2 linked regions of the Homo sapiens genome follow. The gene in region 1 interacts genetically with each later gene. Each region holds a gene or a part of one and is shown in the gene's direction. Other genes may lie near its edges.

What was found.
Region 2: of SRF (region 1) and ATG7, changing one enhances a phenotype caused by changing the other (phenotypic enhancement), as found in Homo sapiens cells (one large-scale study listed by BioGRID).

What each region holds. Positions count from the first base shown.
Region 1 is NC_000006.12:43,174,053-43,177,866, forward strand, and holds part of SRF (serum response factor), read left to right. Parts: coding exon 1-61; intron 62-1,653; coding exon 1,654-1,915; intron 1,916-2,495; coding exon 2,496-2,615; intron 2,616-3,814. UniProt on the Homo sapiens protein: SRF is a transcription factor that binds to the serum response element (SRE), a short sequence of dyad symmetry located 300 bp to the 5' of the site of transcription initiation of some genes (such as FOS).
Region 2 is NC_000003.12:11,362,612-11,366,425, forward strand, and holds part of ATG7 (ubiquitin-like modifier-activating enzyme ATG7), read left to right. Parts: intron 1-201; coding exon 202-317; intron 318-2,047; coding exon 2,048-2,123; intron 2,124-3,814. UniProt on the Homo sapiens protein: E1-like activating enzyme involved in the 2 ubiquitin-like systems required for cytoplasm to vacuole transport (Cvt) and autophagy.

The sequences.
Region 1 (3,814 bases):
CTTTGAAGAGACAGATCTCACCTACCAGGTGTCGGAGTCTGACAGCAGTGGGGAGACCAAGGTGTGTTTGGGTTGCCTATGTGAGAGGAGGGAAGGGAGTGGGGTCCCTCTCCCTTTCTGGCCCAGGACAGGTGGATAGGTGCCCACCGATGTGGAGTGGAGCCGGATTAACGACCCTCGTCCTAGGGGACAGGTGTCCATCCTCACTTTCCTGATAGAAGACCGCCCCCCTAGATAAGCGGGCGGCCTCCGTGCCCATATAAGGCCGGCTTGGGCTCCACGCCGGCCTCCCGCCCGCAGCCCGCCTGCCTGGCAGGGCCTTTGCATTCCTCCCGCCAGCTGTCTCCCCGCTAGGGGCGGGGGTGTAGTTTAGCCCGGCCCTCCGGGCTGGGTCGCCAGGGAGTAGAAAGGGAGCACTCCGGTCCCGGGGTCCTGGGAATCCAGCACTCTTGGCAGGCGGGCTGGTTGACTGGGCCGGGGACTACCTTACAAGCCAGCCGCTGCCCTTTCAGGGTGTTGGGGGCCTGGGCAGTTAGGGAGCGCATTTGCCTGCTGCTAGGGATGCCTGCGCTGTTACTCCTCCCCCTTCCTTTTCCCGGTAAGGAGAGGGGGTGGGGCTTCCTCCCTTGCTGTCTGGGGAGCTCCACCTTCCGGGTGGCACTTAACTGACTGGCCAATGGGAGGAAGCGGCACTGTTTGCCTTAGCAACGCCTCTGCCAATCAAGGGTCTTGGGCCCAGCTGCTTTGCAAACGTCTCGTGCTGACCCACCCCGCAGCCTTTGAGCCTCTGGTTGACTCATTTCGGGTCTGGGCTTGGTGGCTTGGTTCTCAGTTTCCTTCTTCCCCTTCTAAGAACGAAGTCTTCCTTAGGGGAGAGTCAGTGCTGTAGGCTACCTCCTCTCTTAGTGGCATATCATCTGTAATAATTTTTAAACTTTTATAACAGTAGGGCTCATTTATTCCCAGGAAATTTTGTTGGATGAGTACATTCTTTTGGTAGTTTACATCTTGGGTGTTTGACATATAGTGTGTCATTGCCAGATTCTCAAGATCTCTCTCAAACTCTTAAGTTCCCTGAGAAACTCAGTTCCTATCTCAGAAGCCTGACAAATTAGAGCTGGAAGAACTCTTTGAAAGAAAACGTAGTAGCCCAGCCCCCTCATGCTTATAGAAGAGGAAAACCGAGGTTCAGAAAAGGGGACTGGTTATTTCAGGGTCACTTAGATGGTCATTACCAGAGCTAGGAACAGACCTTGGTGTCCTGACTCCCCAGCCAATGGGATTACCACAGTCCGCTGGAGCAGAGAACTCAGGGGATTATAATAATGACAATGATAATAATTATCATAAGAGCAGCAAATATTTATTTTGGTTTTTTTATGTGCCAGGTAGTGTTTTCTAAGTGATTTACATATGCTAACCTACTTAATCCTTACAGCAACCTAGGGGGTAGGTATTATCCTCCTTTTACCGATAGAAAACTGTAGCTCAGTAGATCAATAACTTACCTAAGAGTCAGGCATCAGGTAAATGGTGGCGTTGGGATTTGAACCCAAGCTCACTGGTTTCAGTCTGGGTTCTCAGTCCACACAAAGCTTCTGCAAAGGCAGGATCTGGTAGGGGCTCATTGCTTCATCTTTACTCTGGGTATAGGACACACTGAAGCCGGCGTTCACAGTCACCAACCTGCCGGGTACAACCTCCACCATCCAAACAGCACCTAGCACCTCTACCACCATGCAAGTCAGCAGCGGCCCCTCCTTTCCCATCACCAACTACCTGGCACCAGTGTCTGCTAGTGTCAGCCCCAGTGCTGTCAGCAGTGCCAATGGGACTGTGCTGAAGAGTACAGGCAGCGGCCCTGTCTCCTCTGGGGGCCTTATGCAGCTGCCTACCAGCTTCACCCTCATGCCTGGTGAGTCACGAGGGGCAGGGAGAGATTCGTCCTTCCTGGGGCAAATCAAGCATGCTAAGAGTGTGTTTAGGGCTGGCACCAAGAGAACCTCTTTCCCTGCTCAGAAGGAAGGTGAATAGGGGCCAGAGCCTGAGCGAAGCCTCTTATATCCCGTTGGCAGGCATACCTCTGCCCACTGAGACCCCTGCTGTCCTTGTCAGTAAGTTTCAACCATATATTCTGGCCCTGTCTAGCTACCCCAGCCCCGTGCCCTCATTGCCACAGGGCAGTAGATGTTTCACCACTTCCTGCCTTGACTGGAAGGCAGATCATGTCTTTGATGGGTTATTGCCAGCTCTTGGGTCAACTGAAGAAAAGAGAGACAAGGCCCAGGGCAGGAGGAGGAGGGATGGGCAAGAGTAGAGCGTGGAAGCCCCCAGAGTGGATACTTGGGCCTGAAGGGCCTCTTTGGCTTCCAGGAAAGATAGTGATGGGAGTTGGAGACCAGTGTGCCAGACCCTGGGACTGGGGTGTCCATGGGTACTTGGTGGAGGTGGCAATTGGGTGGGACAGAGCACAAATAAGACTCTGTGTCTTGCAGGTGGGGCAGTGGCCCAGCAGGTCCCAGTGCAGGCCATTCAAGTGCACCAGGCCCCACAGCAAGCGTCTCCCTCCCGTGACAGCAGCACAGACCTCACGCAGACCTCCTCCAGCGGGACAGGTATAGCTCGCAGCCCTGTCACCCTCCCTCCCTGCCTTCCCCCACGAGGCCTAGCAGTAGGTGCCCAACAGTAACCCTCCTGTAACTAAAGTCAGGGGATTTCTTAAAGTGGAGATTGAGGCTTTGGGCCTAATAATTATGGGGAAGTCAGGTGAGGATGACTGGGTTTTGAATCCCGCCCTGCAGTGGGCTGCGGATTCCAGAAGAAAATTGGGGACCATTGACCTACCTCCTCATTCAGATGAGGAGCCTGAGGCCTAGAAATAAGAAGTTACTTGCTCAAAGACACATTTGCTTAATTATCAGGAAGGACTTAGAGAGCAATTTTCTCTTTGTGCGAGGGTCTTACAGGTTTTGAGTAGCCACAGTTACCCTCAGGTATCTCTAGACATTTCAGAAATGATGAGATACTCTCAAAGTAAGGTTAATTTTAAGTTCTTATTATTTATAACCTTTTTACTCAAAGTGTGGCCTATGGACTGGGAACACCAGCATTACCTGGGAGCTTGTTGGAAATACAGAATCTTGAGTCTCACCCCAAACCTAGTGAATCGGAGTCTGTTTTTTTTTTTTTTTTTGAGACGGAGTCTCGCTCTCTGTCGCCCAGGCTGGAGTGCAGTGGCACCATCTCGGCTCACTGCAAGCTCTGCCTCCCGGGTTCACGCTATTCTCCTGCCTCAGCCTCCCGAGTAGCTGGGACTACAGGTGCCCGCCACCACACCTGGCTAATTTTTTTGTATTTTTAGTAGAGACGGGGTTTCACCTTGTTAGCCAGGATGGTCTCGATCTCCTGACCTCGTGATCCGCCCACCTCGGCCTCTCAAAGTGCTGGGATTACAGGCCTGAGCCACCGCACCCGGCCCAGAGTCTGTGTTTTAACAAGATTCCCATATAATGCACGTTAACATTTGAGAAGTGCTTGTTTGAAAGATGAATTTGTTAGCTGTGCATTAAGAAGGAGAGAGAGGCCGGGTGCGGTGGCTCACGTCTGTAATCCCAGCGCTTTGGGAGGCCGAGGGGGGCAGATCACGAGGTCAGGAGATTGAGATCATCCTGGCTAACACGGTGAAACTCCATCTCTACTAAAAATTCAAAAAATTAGCCGGGCTTGATGGCAGGCATCTGTAGTCCCAGCTACTCGGGAGGCTGAGGCAGGAGAATGGCATGAGCCCAGGAGGCGGAGCTTGCAGTGAGCCAAG
Region 2 (3,814 bases), on another chromosome or scaffold:
ACCTCATTTAGTTACCTAAATTGTATATTTTGTTTATCTTGATAATCTCAAGAAATGATGTACTTGAGGCTGGATGTTCTTTGCCAACAATGAGCATCTGGTTATAATTTAAAGCTTTGTCACAGAGGATTTCATACTTGAGACAGCTAGAGTTGAATGGAGTAGAACGTTCTGCACACACCAATGATTGTTTCTTTGCAGTCAACCAGAGACCGGACCTTGGACCAGCAGTGCACTGTGAGTCGTCCAGGACTGGCCGTGATTGCAGGAGCCCTGGCCGTGGAATTGATGGTATCTGTTTTGCAGCATCCAGAAGGGTGAGTTTGCTAGTAGGAGATGAGTATTTAAACAAAGCTTTTGTAGGCAGTTGTTCATCAGTGTCTCCCATGGCCTTTTCTCAGTCTGACTTTACAGAGAATTTCACTATTTCACCCTCAAAAAAACAAGACTAGAAAAAGCAGGTCTGGTTCTTTGGGCTGAGATAACTTGGCATGTTTCCTTTGTGGCCACATTTCTGCATCTTTCCGGACAAAGTCACTATGGTTTATTTTATTTTTCCAACGCTTATATAGGGCTTACTTTGTGCTAGGCACTGTTCTAAGCACCTTAGAAATTTTGCCTCCTTCAATCTTTTTTTTTTTTTTTAACGAGACGGAATTTCGCTCTTGTTGCCCAGGCTGGAGTGTAATGGCACGATTTTGGCTCACTGCAACCTCTGCCTTCTAGGTTCAAGTGATTCTCCTGCCTCAGCCTCCCAAGTAGCTGGAATTACAGGCATACGCCACCATGCCCGGCTGATTTTTGTATTTTTAGTAGAGATGGGGTTTTGCCATGTTGGTCAGGCTAGTCTTGAACCTCTGACCTCAGTGATCAGAAGTGATTCACCCACCTTATCCTCCCAAAGTGTTGGGATTACAGGCGTGAGCCATTGCACCCGGCCTCCTTTAATCTTCATAGCAAACATATTAGGAAAGAACTATTATTATTAGTCGCAGTTTTGATGGGGAAATCAAGGCATAGTGAGGATAAGTAAGTGGCCAAATTTACATAGTAAATGGAAAAGCCAGGGTTTAGCTCAACCAGTGTGGCTCCAGACTATGTTTAATGACTTTGTTATGCTGTTTGCAATACAGGCAGCAGAAAATCGAATTTTTGAAAGATTTATTTTTCCAGTTCTCAGAAAGTCAATATGCAAATTAACATGAATATTCTATTTCTTGTGTGACTCAAAGCTTTCCTCAGCAGTTGAAAATTGTGGTTGTATATGTAACTAGTATGGGTACTCTGAGATAAATGAAAAGCGGGGCTTTTTTGTCTTCCTCTTTGTCATCCACCTTAGCTATCTGTCATTTAAGTTTATTGCCACTCTCTGACAGGAAGTATTTGGGATAAAATCTTTGAGAGCTGACTTTATGCTTCCTTGACACTGAGCCTCTGTCTGCCACATTTGCCCTGGTCATAGTTTAAACACCAGGTCCTGTGTCACATCTTTTTGGTGCCACAAGTATCACTCCATTGTTCAGAGAGTAGTGTATTAGTTCTGCCCAATTCATTCTTCACTTTTATTTCTTCCATTTCATTAGCATTTATATCAGCTCAAGAAGTTAAGGTTAGAAAATTTTCCACTTCAAATTTTCAGTACAGAAATGTGCTGTGATGTTTGACAAGACTATTTCATAGTAAGTGAGTTAATGTTTATTGGCCTCTGATATGCCGAACATTGCACTCGGCAGTTGATGTAGTAGATTCCTCATTTATTAATCAGAGCTCCCTCATTCCTACTTTATAGATGATGGATCTGAAGCACAGAAAAGTTAAGCAACTTGCCTATGGTCACAAGCTCAGGTCTTTCTGACTCCAAACCATGCATGTTTAAATTACTCTTCTTGCCCTTTGTCCCAGGGAAATTAGTTTTTTGCTAACTTACACTGCCCAGCAAGGGGCATTTTAGTTATCCTTATGAATCTTATGTAGATTTCTGCTAGATCATCCTCCCATGTGTTAAACTTGGATTAAATGAGCAGCTCTGATTGTTTCCTGTCCTCAGGGGCTATGCCATTGCCAGCAGCAGTGACGATCGGATGAATGAGCCTCCAACCTCTCTTGGGCTTGTGCCTCACCAGGTTAGTGATGTGGAAGTGAAATCACAATTCTTTTGGTACAGGGGGAAAGCATGTGGGGTCTCTTTGCCATTCCATCTGCCCAGCCCACTTCATATCCACCCTACTTACCCTGCAGCTGGGATTTCAATGGGAGAGCTTTCTGACCACCTGGAAGGTATTCCATTCTGCGGGATAGTGATGGGAGGAAATCACGAACGAGAAGCATTGCCCAGAGTCTTTGATGCGTTTTGTAAACTGACTAGAGGCCTCATAATGCAATAGGAACAGAAAAAACAGGCTTTGGAATCAGTCATACAATGGTTTAAATCCCAGCCCTGCCGTTATAAAGATGGCCTTCTTTGGCCAAGTCACTAAACTTCTCTGAGGCTTAGTTTTCTTATCTGTAACATAGAGAAGGTAATGCTGACATCACCTGGTAGTTGTATGGATTATGGATGGTTGCTAGAAAGGGCTCAGCAACAGTGTATATCATAGGCCCTCAACAAACAATGCCTGCTGTTTCTTTACTGTTGCTTGTTATTATTATTGACTCTGAACCCAAATAGAAAACCTTTATAGGCAGGCATGAGAAAAACATTAGAAGCATGCAGGGTCACCAAAAAGTGGGGTGTCTTTTCAGAAAAAGAATCCAAAGCATCATGAGGAAGTTCCATCCCTTAGGGAGTAAAAAGAAAAAGGCAGTGGGATGATCTTTTAGAATTCATGTTGCCTCTTCAGTCATTTTCATTACTATATTTTTGGGAGATTGAAGAGGTTTTCCAGTCTTATTTGGAAATCATTTTTTTTTAGATTCCATGTATGTATCCTCTCCTGTAATGTGACTGCTGTTCCCATCAGTGAAATCGTGATGGTGCCCACCAGTCCTATCTGGTGATTTGCAAGGACAGACTCAGACGAGTGCAGAGAGCAGAGTGACTCAGCTCATGCTTGTCTCTCTCTTCCTCCTCGCCACCCACCTTCTGCCAGCTAGGGCGGCACTGTCATATTCAGTTTAGGATGAGAATCAGAAGAGGGGAAACGACTTCTTCATGGTCACAGAGACTTAGTGGATGAGCCACAATCCATACCTAAACTTGGCAGTCTGACAAATGTTCTTTCAAAGGTCTTGTGAGTTGAAAGATCCGTGGCCTGCATGTTGGGAGATTTTGCTTCCTGTTGGTACCCCAGCCCCCTTGCACAAAACCACCCATAATAGAACTTGTGGGCCGGGCGCGGTGACTCATGCCTGTAATTCCAGCACTTTGGGAGGCCGAGGCGGGTGGATCACGAGGAGAGGAGTTTGAGACCAGCCTGACCAACATGGTGAAACCCCGTCTCTACTAAAAATACAAAAATTAGCTGAGCGTGATAGTGTGCACCTGTAATCCCAGCTACTCAGGAGGCTGAGGCAGGAGAATCGCTTGAACCCGGGAGGTGGAGGGTTGCAGTGAGCTAAGATCGCGCCATTGCACTGTGGCCTGGGCGACAGAGTGAGACTCCATCTCAAAAAAAAAAAAAAAAAAAATAGAACTTGTAGAGTTCACTTAGCCTCCCAGAGTCTCAGTTTCCAAATCAAGAAAAGCAGGTGCTTTACTTTGTGTCCAGGATTACATCTGACACGGCCTTGAAAACCACAAAACACTATGAAAATGTGCCCCCCTCTGTCCCCCACACACAAGGTGGCATTTTTTTTTGACATGCATGTGTTAATC